Linked DNA regions of Homo sapiens. The protein of the gene in region 4 interacts with the protein of the main gene of each other region in a biochemical or structural test. Each region holds a gene or a part of one and is shown on either strand. Other genes may lie near its edges. The genes, in order: RIGI, MAP3K1, ERCC6 and NPLOC4.

Evidence for each region.
Region 1: the proteins of NPLOC4 (region 4) and RIGI form a complex in vitro, tested with the Homo sapiens proteins (one study listed by IntAct).
Region 2: of the proteins of NPLOC4 (region 4) and MAP3K1, one has a biochemical effect on the other in vitro, tested with the Homo sapiens proteins (one large-scale study listed by BioGRID).
Region 3: the proteins of NPLOC4 (region 4) and ERCC6 form a complex in vitro, tested with the Homo sapiens proteins (one large-scale study listed by BioGRID).

The regions. Positions count from the first base shown.
Region 1 is NC_000009.12:32,491,590-32,495,314, forward strand, and holds part of RIGI (antiviral innate immune response receptor RIG-I), read right to left. Parts: intron 2,354-3,725; coding exon 2,172-2,353; intron 963-2,171; exon of another isoform or gene 950-962; coding exon 802-949; intron 1-801.
Region 2 is NC_000005.10:56,877,936-56,881,660, reverse strand, and holds part of MAP3K1 (mitogen-activated protein kinase kinase kinase 1), read right to left. Parts: intron 2,682-3,725; coding exon 2,560-2,681; intron 951-2,559; coding exon 859-950; intron 579-858; coding exon 389-578; intron 92-388; coding exon 1-91. UniProt on the Homo sapiens protein: Component of a protein kinase signal transduction cascade. Activates the ERK and JNK kinase pathways by phosphorylation of MAP2K1 and MAP2K4. May phosphorylate the MAPK8/JNK1 kinase.
Region 3 is NC_000010.11:49,453,882-49,456,682, forward strand, and holds the end of ERCC6 (DNA excision repair protein ERCC-6), read right to left. Parts: 3' UTR 589-2,801; downstream 1-588. UniProt on the Homo sapiens protein: Involved in repair of DNA damage following UV irradiation, acting either in the absence of ERCC6 or synergistically with ERCC6. Involved in the regulation of gene expression.
Region 4 is NC_000017.11:81,605,928-81,609,652, forward strand, and holds part of NPLOC4 (nuclear protein localization protein 4 homolog), read right to left. Parts: intron 2,896-3,725; coding exon 2,801-2,895; intron 888-2,800; coding exon 764-887; intron 1-763. UniProt on the Homo sapiens protein: The ternary complex containing UFD1, VCP and NPLOC4 binds ubiquitinated proteins and is necessary for the export of misfolded proteins from the ER to the cytoplasm, where they are degraded by the proteasome.

The DNA.
Region 1 (3,725 bases), on a different chromosome or scaffold from region 4:
AAATCTCAATTTGGCGTTGACCTCCAATGTAATTTAGAGCTATATTACTCAAAGTGTGGAACGTATTGCCCTACTGAATCAGAATCCACATTTTAACAAGACCTCGGAGGGATTCGTATGCACCAAAAAAAAAAAAAAAAAAAAAGAGCATGATTTAGCAGACATTCATGTCTTCCTTTTCTGACTGACTCTTGACCCATTAAATCAGATGTGTATTTATACAGTTTCTGAAACAACTTATGATCTAAAGAAGCCTAGGAAAGCTAAGACCAGATATTCAGATGTTTACCAAACTCAGCCTTTGAAACAATGCTGAGTGTCAGCTTCAAGAAACCAAATGATAGTTCAGACACTTAATGACAACCAATTCTTTCACCCGTCGGATTCAGTTCCAGATGGCTTCCAGTAAGAGAACCAGGCAATGTCTGTCAAGAAATCAACTCTGAAAAGGGGGTAAGTCCTGGAGTTTGAACCTTTAACTCTAGAATTCTCAAGCTATTTCTCTGATAATCTAAACTTAGACTGAGAGTTCGGATTTTGCCTTCCTCAAATCCTTTGGGCCAGATGGGCTAATTCTGGATGAGAGTGGTTTTCCCCAGTCCATTTTTAGGGGTTATATGCAACCAAACTAATTTTGTAGGCAAGTAACTGCCTCCCTCCCAGAATCCAGCTTCCTGCTGGTCTCGCGTTAGAGATGTAGCTCTGGCTATCTGAGGGGAAAAACGCCTCTGATGGGATGTAAAAGACCGGTTGGAATGAGCGAGTCCTAAGTAGAGCTGTGAGGAGGGTACAGTGTCTTACCTTTCTCTACAATCCACAGTTCACTGAACTTGTTCCTTTCTTTCTCCAAAGCAAGTTTCAAAGTTTTGGGCCAGTTTTCCTTGTCTGATCTGAGAAGGCATTCCACCAATTTCTCTGCACCTGCCATCATCCCCTTAGTAGAGCAAATCTAAGCAAGGTAACTGTAGTTTATTGATCAATTATCTCAAAAGTTTTCCCTTTATCAATTTTTACTGAAGAAATGTCAGTCATGTACTATCTGATTTAAAGCCATTGTACATTACAGCTCAGTGGGTCATATCCATGACAATTTTTGCCCCATCCAACACAGTCTTTTAAGATACTTTTTCCTTCATCTTTGTCCTTTACACATGATGTCACTATGTCAAGCCAAGCCTTCTCATCACCTCTAAGTTCTTATACCTATCCTCATCAGCAATATTAAGAAAATAATCATTTGACAACCATTCCCAATATGGGTATATTGGCATATAGCAATATTTGGAAACAGATAACAAAATATTAACAAATTTTTCTTCAGGGTTGAGGAATTTGTATGACTTTTACTAACCATAATAACTAAAGTTTATTGTACACATACTCTGTGCAAGACATACATGAGTACTTTACATATATTATCTCATTACCCTTATGAAAATACCATATTATAAGGTAACATTATTATTTCCATTTTACACACAAGGAAACAGATAGATATTCAGAGAAACTAAGTAACTTGCCCAAGATCATACCGCTAGTGGTTGAGCTATGATTCTAACAAAATTCATCTGTGTCCAGAGTCTAAACACTTAACTGCTAGAGTCTGTAGCCCTTTCTCATTTGCTCAACTGTTCAATTTAAATTTGCATAAAATACTATTCACAGACTGTGGTGATTTTAACTGAAAATAGGGCAAACTTCAAAAAAACTTTGTGACATAAAAATTACTCAGTTCACATTAAAAGTACTATTCTGGCTGAGCACGGTGGCTCACGCCTGTAATCCCAGCACTTTGAGAGGCCAAGGCGGGTGGATCACGAGGTCAGGAGTTCGAGACCAGCCTGACCAACATGGTGAAACCCCATCTCTACTAAAAATACAAAAATTAGCTGGGCATGGTAGCACGCACCTGTAATCCCAGCTACTCGAGAGGCGAGGCAGGAGAATTGGTTGAACTCAGGAGGCGGAGGTTGCAATGAGCCGAGATCACACCATTGCACTCCAGCCTGGGCGACAGAGCGAGACTCCGTCTCAAAAAAAAAAAAGTACTATTCTATGAGTACTTTTGTGGGTTTCAATGATCTTTCTCAGGTCTAAAACAGTATAGAAAACAGAAGACCTTCCCATGTTATAATTATTTCCCCCAATTTTAGTATTTTATATTAACTTACCTGTAGAATTTCTTCACATTCCTGATTAATTAAACATTCAGACAGATCAGAAATGATATCGGTTGGGATAATTCTGGTTTTAAATTCTGGTTGTAAACGTTTTAAAAGTAATCTATACTCCTCCAACTTTTCAATTTTTTTGAAATCCCAACTTTCAATGGCTTCATAAAGTCCAGAATAACCTGAAAAAAAAGAAAAAAAATGTGGACTTTTATGAAACCAACTGAAAAATACTTTGAGATTAGTATCATAGAAATCATGTTTGAATGTATGGTGGTAGAATTCAAAAAATATCTGTAAATTACCCCCAATTGTCATTGATTTTTCAAAAAGAAAACAGTATTCATTTTAGTCAGCCAACACTTTAGGTCTTCTAGCAATATTTATTATCTATTGGGAAAAAGTACTAAGGAAAACTTTGAAGTCTTACATTTTGATCTTAGTATAAAATCTTTCTTCCAAAGTGACTCATAGACTTCACCTACAATCCCTGATTTGTCTTTAAAAAGTCAGAGTCAACAGGTTTATTAAGTATCTTCTCAGTGGAAAGCAGTAAAGAAGGCAAAAAGAAATATAAACCTTAATTCCTGCCCACAAGGAACTTTCCTTCTAATTTTTCTAAGATAATATTAAGTAAATGGGAAATTTACTTAATATTATTCTACATGCCTTTAAAAGATATTTATTTAAAAATCATATTTAGAAAGTTCAGAGAAAAATACTAATGGCCAAGAAACATACATAAGATGTTCAACCTCATTCTTTTTTAAAATTGTAGTAAAAAACAGATAAAACATTTACCATCTTAACTATTTTTAAATGTACAGTTCAGTCGTGTTAAATTCATTTTGTTATAAAAAAAAAATCCAGACCTTTTTCACCTTGCAAATCTAAAACTCTATGAAACAACTATTCCTTTTTCTCTCCTCACCCCTGCTCCTGGTAACCACCACTCTTTCTGTTTCTATGAATCTGACTACTTTAGATAATCTATATAGGTGGCAAAATACAATATTTGTCTTTTTGTGACTGGCTTATTTCACTCAGCACAGCACCCTCAATGTATGTCCATTTTGCAGGATGTGCCAGGATTTCCTTTTTTTTTTAAGGCTGAATAATATTCCATTGTATGTGTATATCACATTTTGTTGATCCATTCATCACTGATGGACATTTGAGTTGCTTCTACCTTGTAAGCTATCACGAATAATGCTACTATCAACATGGATGTGCAAATATCTCATCAATACCTTGCTTTCAATTCTTTTGGAAATACACCAGAAGCAGAATTGCTGGATCATATGGTGATATATATTTTCAATTTTTTGAGGGACTGCCATACTGTTTTCCATGGCTGTTAACACCATTTTACAATCCTACCAATCAGGCACAGGGTTGCAGTTTCTCCACATCCTCACCTATATGCATTATTTTCTGTTTTTATTTTATTTTATTTTTTGAGGCAGAGTCTTGCTCTGTCACCCAGGCTAGAGTGCAGTGGCACGATCTCGGCTCACTGCAAACTCTGCCTCCCGGGTTCAAGCAATTCTCCTG
Region 2 (3,725 bases), on a different chromosome or scaffold from region 4:
GTAGATCCTTCTGGAAAGTTTGCCAACCATTGAGTGGGAATTATCAATGGACTGCAAAGCAAAGGTTAAGAGGGACAGCAGCTTCTTATACCTGAAAGAAAAAAACATTCATTACCATATAAGTTCCAATTACTGAAAAATACATGGAAACTTAAAAAATGGTAGTAATTTACAGCATGTATACTTCAAAAACCATTTCAGCATAAAGTATCTATGAATTTTTAATTAAAGAGCCCAGACTTTGGGTTTTCATATGTCAATCAAATATTAAGGTATCAGCAACCTATTCATGCTCTGAGTCTTTCAAAAATCTAAAATGTGTCATTCTTGAGGAGGGTGTAGGGAGGGTAGGAAGATACAAGTAATACATTTTCAGAAGAAAAATTACCTGATTTCAACAGGCTCAGCTTGTGAAACATCAGTACTGACAATATGAGGATAAAATTCAGCAGGAAATTCCAACAACAGTCTATCTATAAGACAAAGGCGGCCAAGAAGTTCTTGCCAATTGTTTGATTCAGTTTGGTTTCCAAGAATACAATTTAAGACATAATCAACACCACCAATACCAATGGATCCTACAAAAAGGAAAGTAAAAATAAATGATTAAAAAATAGTGATATTAAAATCTAAAACAAGACATGATTAAATGGTGTAAGGCCAACAAAAATATTCTGAACTATTTTAAAGAATTTCTCTCTCAGAGTAATTCACATTTCTAACTGTAACACAGTGAATCAATTTATAAAATTACTTCAAAATCCTGTAAACTGCCTCATGAGAGATTATGAGATTAGACAAGGCTGCTCAGGAACATGATAAAATATGCTATATTCCTTTTAAGTGAAAAGTTATTACCAGCTTTTAGTATTTCTCTGCCAACTGCCAACTCTCCTGCTTGGCCTTTGCACAGTTCCAACAGTGTTGATATGGACAGCTGACTTGTGCGGCTAAAAACAAAGGAAAAGCAACATCAATCCTGGATCTTGGCTAAAACACTATACAATATTAGAGGAGTAATGTAATGCCTTGTGAAAAAGTGGAGAAATAATGTTTTCAGGAGTGTTTACTTTTCCACCACTAAAATCATATTAACAATGTCACCATAAGTAGTAATATTCATTTATTAGGTCTAATTTCGTAAATTTAACATATCCCCTATGTTAAGCACAGAATTTTCAACAATGGCTCTTTGCAAGTACTGATTTAAATACCAAATCAGATAAAAGTCTTATATTTTGTTAAAAGAAAAAACAAGGACCTTGATATTTTGATTTCTGAACTTTCACTAAGAAGCTCTTGAATTAAAAACAAAACCTTCCTATCCAAAAACCCTCCATTTCCTTACATAGCCAAAATGAGGTCTGAATATTATAAAATCTCTCTACAGTATTTCTTATGTTCAGTCATTCAGGTGACCAGGTAAACAACCTAAGTTTGGAGTTTCAAAAAGTGAGCAGCATAACAAATACCATGAGAACACTGAATTCTCAGAAATATACCTATTCTAATATTTAAAAATGACATTTTTCCTATGCATTTTGCAAATTACTTGTTAATTTGCAATATTTTACAGATATACAATGTTTTCTCTAAGCAACAAGGAAACATCCAATATTTTCAATCTATAGAGAAAACAATAGAGGCAAAAGACAGACTTCATGATATGAGAAATTCGTTAAAGGTAGGTACCTAATTTTTGAGATCCTGTGCAAACTAAGTCATTATGACTTGCAGAGGAAGAGAAAGGTTGTACTGAGAGAACTCTAAATGGGTGAAATGGAAGAGGCAACAGAAGGGAGATTCAACACTTCTTGCTAACCAAGATCTGCTGGGATAGAAAGAAATAGGAACTACCAAATAACTGTTCACAGTAGCTGTGATTATTAAATGAAAATTGATCTTTTCCTCCTATTTTATGGAAGGGGAAAATAAAAGAGAACCATTGGTCTGAAAAAAGCATGGCTTGTACTCATCTTTACTGTCATTGTACCTCAATTCTCTACTTCATATTTTTCTTTCCAGTTAGGGTTATTCTTGTTCCCTGTCAATTTTTAAGGATATTGCAGGAATATAAAAAATCTAAAAATTTTTTGACAAAACTGTCATAAGTAGAGTAAAATTCCACTACACTGAAAATGAGATGGATTTGTTAATTTTTTATCCTGATAATAAGGCATATGCAGGTGTAATGATCTTACTGGTTCCTATTCTGTGTAACCCATACTCTAATATGAGATTATAACTTATAGATATAAATGTCAACTACTGTTCTTATCGACTGGTCTTCAGATTATGAATGTTACTAAAGAGAGTAAATCACAATACAATAATGTGGAGATCCATGCAGTTTGTTTGCCTGGCTTTTACTTGCCAGTAGTTCTTTCCGCCAGTCCTTAAGAGCTTTATGCTGCATTTTCATTTTAAATCTCACATTAAAAGACAATGTTCAAAGACTCATTTAATAAAATGTATCAGATATTCACACTAGGTGTGAGGCTTGCTGCGAGGCACTTTTAAGACAAGAGGGTTTGAAGTGATTCATCAATAAAGCCTTACCTATTGGCATCTGCACATTTGACTAGGATGGTGTCTACAACTGGCTGGAGAAGTCTCTGAAGTTTGATTCTTTCCGCTAAACTGTGGCAAGGAGTATATACCAGCATGGCTCTCAATGTTTTCTAAGGAAAAAAATCTGAAGGTCAGTTTATGTACACTTAAAAAGCATCAGAGATAATGGCCTAATTTGAGACAATTTGAGCAACAAAATAAGTAGACAGGAATGGATTATAACCCATAGAATAAAATAAGAATTCCATGCTTCTGTAATAATACAACTAACTAACAAAATAAATGAATGGGGCAGGAAGGAATTTTCTGAACTCTTTTCTCTGCAATTTTTAAAAGTCTGAATTCATTTCAAGATGAAAAGTTAAAAAAAATTATTTTAAAAAAGAAAATGAGAACAGGCGCCAACCTGAAAGAGCTCCCAATGGTCAAGGCTGGAATAATTAGAGCAACAAAACAAATGATGGTAGTACTGGGTTGCAACCCACAGAACAAAATGAATACCCAGGAGCCTACACCAATACAAATTAAAAATTGAATAGGTATATAAACAGAGAAGCTCTTCTTTATAGAATAATTCCAATTAATTAATGTAGAAGGAATGAGGAAAATAGAAAATCACCACTAGAACACCATTTTTTAAATTATACTTTAGTTGTGGGGTACATGTGCAGAACGTGCAGGTTTGTTACATAGGTACACACATGCCATGGTGGTTTGCTGCATCCATCGACCCGTCATCTACATTAGGTATTTCTTGTAATGCTATCCCTCCTCTACCTCCCGACCCCCGACAGACTCCAGTGTGTGATGCTCCCCTCCCTGTGCCCAAGAGAGCACCATTTTTAATGGTGTAGTAATAACTGCTATAGGCAAGATCCACAAATGCTTTTAAAATCAGTGGACAAAATTTTGAGGTGAAATAGGGTATTTGCATAATCTCAAAGTAACTCTCACAAGATATTTAGGAATATTAACTTTACAGCAGGGAAACTTGGTAGACATTACCTTAACTGACAGCATCACCAATAATAAAAGCCATGGGCATATGTACCCACTGATATGATGCACTAAGAAAGGCCTGTCACCTCTGTGGCGTTCTTGTGAAAAATACGTAACTTCCATCTAATCATGAGAAAACATCAGATAAACCCAAA
Region 3 (2,801 bases), on a different chromosome or scaffold from region 4:
TCACTACTTTCAAGGTTTTCTCATCTTTGATTTCAGCATTTTTGACTATGATGTGTCTGTGAATCCCTCTGCATTTATCATGCTGGAAGTTCACTAAGCTTCCTAGATGTTTTTCAATCAATTTGGAGAGTTTTCAGTCATTGTATCTTTAAATATTTCCTTTTTCTTCTGCTCTTCTTGTACTCCCATTACATGCATACTTAATGGTGCACATAATGGTGCTTCACATTTCTCTGAGGTTTTGCTCATTTTTCATTTTTTTTCTCTCTGTTCTTTGGAAAGCATATCTCTCTTATTCTATCTGCCAGTTGGCTGACAATTTCTTCTGCCAGTTCAAATCTACTATTGAACCCCTTTAGTGCATTTTTTCCTTATTATAGTTTTTAACTTCATGAATTTAGCTCTTGCCACTTGAAGCTGGAGGGGATAAGAAATGCTGGCATCTTGCCCCTCCCTGTGAGGTACCATACCTCTGGACAGGGAGCTGAGGGAGACGGAGCTCTGTTTTCTTGGCTGCACCCACTGAAATGGGAGGGAGGGAGTGAGTGTGTTGTGGCTGAAATGTCTGACTCACTGTTCTTACCAAGATTTGGATTTTCTTGAATAAGCGTTACTTTATTCTACATGCTTTTAGGACAATTTCCAGTGGCATTAAGTGTTTGTGTCTCTCTGTATGAGAGGAAGGTGTTTATTTTTTGTTACAATTTTCACTAGTTATAGCTAATTCCTAGGACAGTGGGTCCACAGGGCCCTTCACATTGCCATTCTGGAAGTGAAAATCTAAAAGATATTTCAATGTTAGAAAATTTAACTGTGTACTTTACTACACCAAGAAAAGCTATACAATTATATCAATATATACCAGAAAAGACTTTGAGGACAATCATTCTACCATTTGTGATAATCAATTATGATACCACAATGATAAAAACAGTGGGTTACTAAGCAAAGTTAGATAAATGGACCAATTTAACAGAATGCAGAGCCAAGAAACATTTCCGTACATTATATGTAAATTGGTAAAGGTGGCCTTATACATCAGGAGGAAAATAATAAACTATTTTTTAAAGGTGCTAGGGAAACTAGCTATCCATATGGGATTAATAATTCATAAGAATGTATTCATGACCCTAGCTAGGGAATGGTTCTTAAATAAACAAAAAAAAATGGAAAGACTGAATTTACTATATTTTAAAACTTCCGTATGATAAACATCACAAAATAGATATGTGAATATGCTAATTCTCCATATTTTTATGTAAGTTAAAAGACTCACAACCAAAACTAAAAATCTATAAAACACCTAGGAATAAGCCTATTATGAAATGTGCAAGACATTTATGAAGAAAGTTATTAAAATTTCATCCAAGAATATAAAAGACTTTAATAAAATGAGGCCTATCATAACACTAATCAGAAACATTATATTAATTATAAAGAGGTCTATTATTCTCAAATTAATGTGTAAACAAATGCAATCCTAGTCAAAAGAACACCACAATTTTACTGGAATTTAATAAACTAATTCTTGATTCAGCTGGAACAGAAAACACCCAAGTATAAGACACTGAAGAGGGGGAGAAAGGAAAAGGAACTTGCCCATGAATGGCAAAACACAATGCAAAGCACCAAATGACAGCGTGAGGAGTGTGGTTGGTAGAACCAACACCTGGATCCACAGGACAGAAATAGACAACTTAGCATGTGATGAGTTGAAAGCTGACATTTTAAACTGGTGGAGAAAAGAATATTTGTTGATCATTGGAATAACTGCCTTTTTGTTTTTGTTTAGGGGAGCAATCCTAAAAGATAAACAACCCACAGGAAAACTAGGCCAACATAACACTAATAGGCAATGTACGGTAGAGATCTACAAATGGCCAATAAACATGGAAATGTTTGATTTTGTACGTAATCAGGGAAATTCAAGTGAAAACAAGGTACTTTCAATCACGAGACTGGTTAAAACAAAACAAAACAACCTATCGATATTGATACCACTTACTGTTGGCAAGGGTTTGGAGAAATGGGTCCTTTTATGGAGGGTGAATTGATGCAAGCAATTCTGCTACATCCACTGACATTTAAAATCTACATCATTAATCCAACAATTCTGTGCAGGCAGAGCTATACTTACAGGAATAGAAATGTCTTGCATATAATATTAAATGAAAAGTTAGTTGCAAAATAAGGATGGTATAAGGCCATTAATATAAATTACATATTTAAAGCAAACTAATTGCTATAATAGACTTCAAAAGACAGTAGCTTAAGCAAGTCAGTATTTTATTTTACTCTTAAATAACAGGTCAAAGGAGAGCAGTTCAAGACTGGCAGGCCAACTTCTCCTTCCTCAACACATCACTTCCATCTCTTGAGATGCCAGGTCACTACTGAAGCTCCCATTGGCCTCCCAGCCAGCAAGAAAGGGGAATGTCAAGGAGAGTGCATACCCTGCTTCTTTAAAGGGCCAATTGGGAAGTTTAAAACTTAGTCATATGGCCACAATTAACTATAAGAGAGGCTGAGAAGTAGTCTTAAGCTGAGCAGCCAGACGTCCAGGTAAAACTCAAAAATTTTATTAGTAAAGGAAGAATGGGAAAATGACATTATAGCAGCAGTCTGTGTCATGTGATTCTCTAAATGCATGGAGAATACACACCAAACCTAGGGCTGTACTTAGCTGTGGAACAGGTGCAAGATGGTGTGGGGGTGGGGAGGCAGACTATTGCTTGAACATTTTTAATGGTGATAGTATTAACATTTAATTTTTTGACAAAATTTTAAAATCCTTTATTTGT
Region 4 (3,725 bases):
CTCCTGCCTCAGCCTCCTGAGCAACTGGGACGACAGGCGCCCATCACTACGCCCAGCTAATTTTTTGTATTTTTAGTAGAGATGGGGTTTCACCATATTGGCCAGGCTGGTCTTGAACTCCTGACCTCAGGTGATCCGCCCACCTCAACCTCCCAAAGTGCTGGGATTACAGGTGTGAGCCACCTTGCCCGGCCAAAATAAAGTAGTTTTCAAGAAGAAAAAAGGAATAGAGAATAGGAGGTTTCCAAAAAAGTCGAGGAGGCCACGGAATTCTCTCTAAGGAGCCGTTTTCTCTAAGGGCACAGCGGCAGGAGGAAGGCGAGGCAGGCTACTCAGAGGCGGGACAAGGACAGCAGAACATCCAGAAAGGCCGGAACGCTCCCTCCTTCCTGAGCCACATTCTCTCCTTAAGCCAGCCTGGACAGGTGCTCAGAGCTGGTCCAAGGGGTGCCCCTTTACCAACCTTCAGAGCCAGTTTCCTCACAACCACTGAGGATTTTAAATAATCATCAGGAACATTCTGCCTCCATATGAGCCAGCAAAACAGAGAACTGAGGGCGCGCACTCCATATCTCCAAGAGCAAGAAGCCTTAAAAATGATATATTCAGTGTACCACTTCCACAAAAGGATCATTCAGTCCATCAAAAAGTACTGAAAATCCACCACGCATAGTGCTAATAGCATTCCACTCCAAGGGGCTCTTCTGGAAATATCCGTTTCTCAGCCATGAAAACAAATCTAGACAGACAGGGAACATCTCACCTGTCTGTTCAGCGTGATGGCGCTCGGCTGGCACTTAGTACAGATGCCATTCGGCCACGGGAGGTGCCCCTCGCACCCTGACTTAATCTTGCAGCTGATGTTCTCCAGGGCAACAAACTTCCCCCTACATAGAAGAGAAGCAACTTAAACATCACATTGGTGAAAAGTTGAGCAAGAGGCTGGAAATGACATGCTAAGTATCTTATACCTCCTGAACAGTGTCTCAGGAGCTAAGCACGTGGCAGCAGCAGGGAAGATGGGCTAAGGATGATTCTAATGGAAGCTCTACCTACAGTTCCAGCACATTCCGAATCCCAGCTTCTGTCCCACATACTTCAACCATACAGGAACACACAACTACTTTCCTACCAAACTGTGGTGTTTTTTACCATCTATCACTAACATCCGAGAAAGCTTTCAAGAATACTGTAGAATATCTACTGATCTCACCTGTGCCACTGAGCGGGCATGAGGCTCCTACAGGTTTCATTAAATTGTCAGAAACTTTGACATTAGCCCAGTACTTAGATATTTGTAAAAAATTCTTATTCATGGGAAAAATCTGATTAGGATATATAATTAAGGCATCTTTACTCTGCTTTAGGCTAAAATAAAAACTACTGTTGAAGACTGTCAATGAGAAAATCCTGGACCCTACTCTGAACTTTTTCTTTTTCTCCAGCTTTATTGAAATATAACTGACAAAAAAAAAAAAAAAAGAAATCTGTATCTTTAAGGTAGACGTGAGGTTTTGTTTTTCAAATAAAAACGATATATTTACAGTGTACGAAATGATATTCTGAAACATGTCCACACTGTGGAACGGCTAAATTGAGCTAATTAACATATGCATTACCTCACATACTGATCATTTTTGGTGGTGAGCCATTTTTGGTATCATAGCATCTAGGAAGCAAAGACTCGTCACTGAATCTGCATGCTAACAGCAGCCACAAACACGCCCCCACTAGAGACTGTGTTCCTTGACCTAGACTGAGAAAGGCTGACCAAGTCTCTTTCACTACAATCAATCTGCACCCACTCCTTAGTCCAGAGAGTTCCACAGCTTTCCCCACTGACAAGCAACAGTGGGTTTCTAGCAGGTTTTTTCTTCTGGTCTAACATTTTTAAAAAGTCATTTTAGGATGTCAGCAGGTTGTCAGAGAAAAGCTACAATCAGGCGAATATGACATCCTTCACAAAATGTTGCTGACTTCAGTTCAGCCACCATCTCCTCGTTGCACTGACAGGAATTATAAAATAATAGCTGAAGCCTGCTACTTTCTGGTAGGGTGTACAGAGAGCCAACAGGAGAAGGTCATACAGGCAAGGGCTTGCCATGGCTTAAAAGAAATCAAAATGCTCAGTTCACCCCTTTCTGGCCACTGTTACCACCTCTGCCCACCTGGCTGAGCCTGTGGGCAACTACTGTGGTACCATGAGGATTAGTGGCTGCAGCCCCTGCTGTGGCTGAAAACCAAGCTGACTCAGAGGCCAGGCTCTGGGGAAAGGGTTACCAGGCACTGAGGTGGGGAAGCTGAGATTCTCACAGGGTAGTTGTTTTTCTGAAAAGCAGAGAATGAACTCAGACCACAGAATCAACAGGCCACCATCACAGATGCTAACTTGCTGGGGTGGTGTGTGTGGGGACAGCCTCTGTCTGATACTGCACTGTGGCCACGCAGCCAGGCGCCTGCACAGTCGCTCTGCCTTGCTAGCTCCCTTCTAGAACCAGGTTGGCCAGGCGAGGTGGCTCACACCTGTAATCCAGCACTTTGGGGAAACCAAGGCAGGAGGATCACTTGAGCCAAGGAGTTCTAGACCAGCCTGGGCAACATAGTGAGACCCCATCTCTTAAAAACATATATGAGTACATAAAAAATAAATAAATAAATATAGAACCACGGTAACTTTCAAAGGCGTGTGACCCCTTCTCATCTTTACTTCTCTCATTCACACGTTCACTGGCTATAAGCAACAACTGCCAGCTACACAAAAAGGAATTTACGCACAACCAGGTTACAGCAAGTTGCTTACTTGTCAGCCCCTCCAGTCAGCTTCCGGATGTAGGCGTGGAAGGACATGTGCTTCACGGGAGGCTCGAGATGGTTTAGATAGTCCTCATCGAATGGCTGCCAAGACACAGAGTAAGCGAGTGCAGTCTCACACGTGCCGGTCACTCCAGGCGCTGAGCCTCTGCTACGCACAGGGGGAGGCCAGCAGCATGGCCTTGGCAAGTCAAGGCCCACAGTGAAAGCAGGTACTAGGGTCTCCCTTACCACTCTGAGTCAGAACCAAGTTTTTCTTTTTTTAATTAATTGTTTTTTGTTTGTTTGTTTTGAGACGGAGTCTCACTCTGTCGCCCAGGCTGGAGTGCAGTGGCACAGTGGCACAGTCTCTGCTCACTACAACCTCCACCTCTGGGTTCAAGCAACTCTTCTGCCTCTGCCTCCCAAGTAGCTAGGACTACAGGTGCACGCCACCACGCCCAGCTTATTTTTGTATTTTTAGTGGAGACGGGGTTTCAGCATATTGGCCAGGCTGGTCTCAAACTCCTGACCTCATGATCCACCCGCCTTGGCCTCCCAAAGTGTTAGCTTTACAGGCGTGAGCCACTGAGTCTGGCCAATTTAACTGTTTTAGAGATGGGGTCTCATGCTGTTGCCCAGGTTGGAGTATGGTGGTGCAATCATGGCTCACTGCAGCCTCGACCTCAAGTGATTCTCTTGCCTCAGCTTCCTGAGTAGCTGGGACTACAGGCGTGAACCACCACACCCAGCTAATTTTTTAAATTTTTTGTAGAGACAGGGTATACAAAAAAAGAGTTGCCCAGGCTGAACAATTCCTAGGCTCAAATGATCCTCTGGCCCTGGCCTCCCAAAGTGTCGGGACTACAGGCGTCACTGCACATAGCCAGAAGCAAGTTTTTCTTTGTGTGCCAGTTATCTTTTCAAGATTAAAA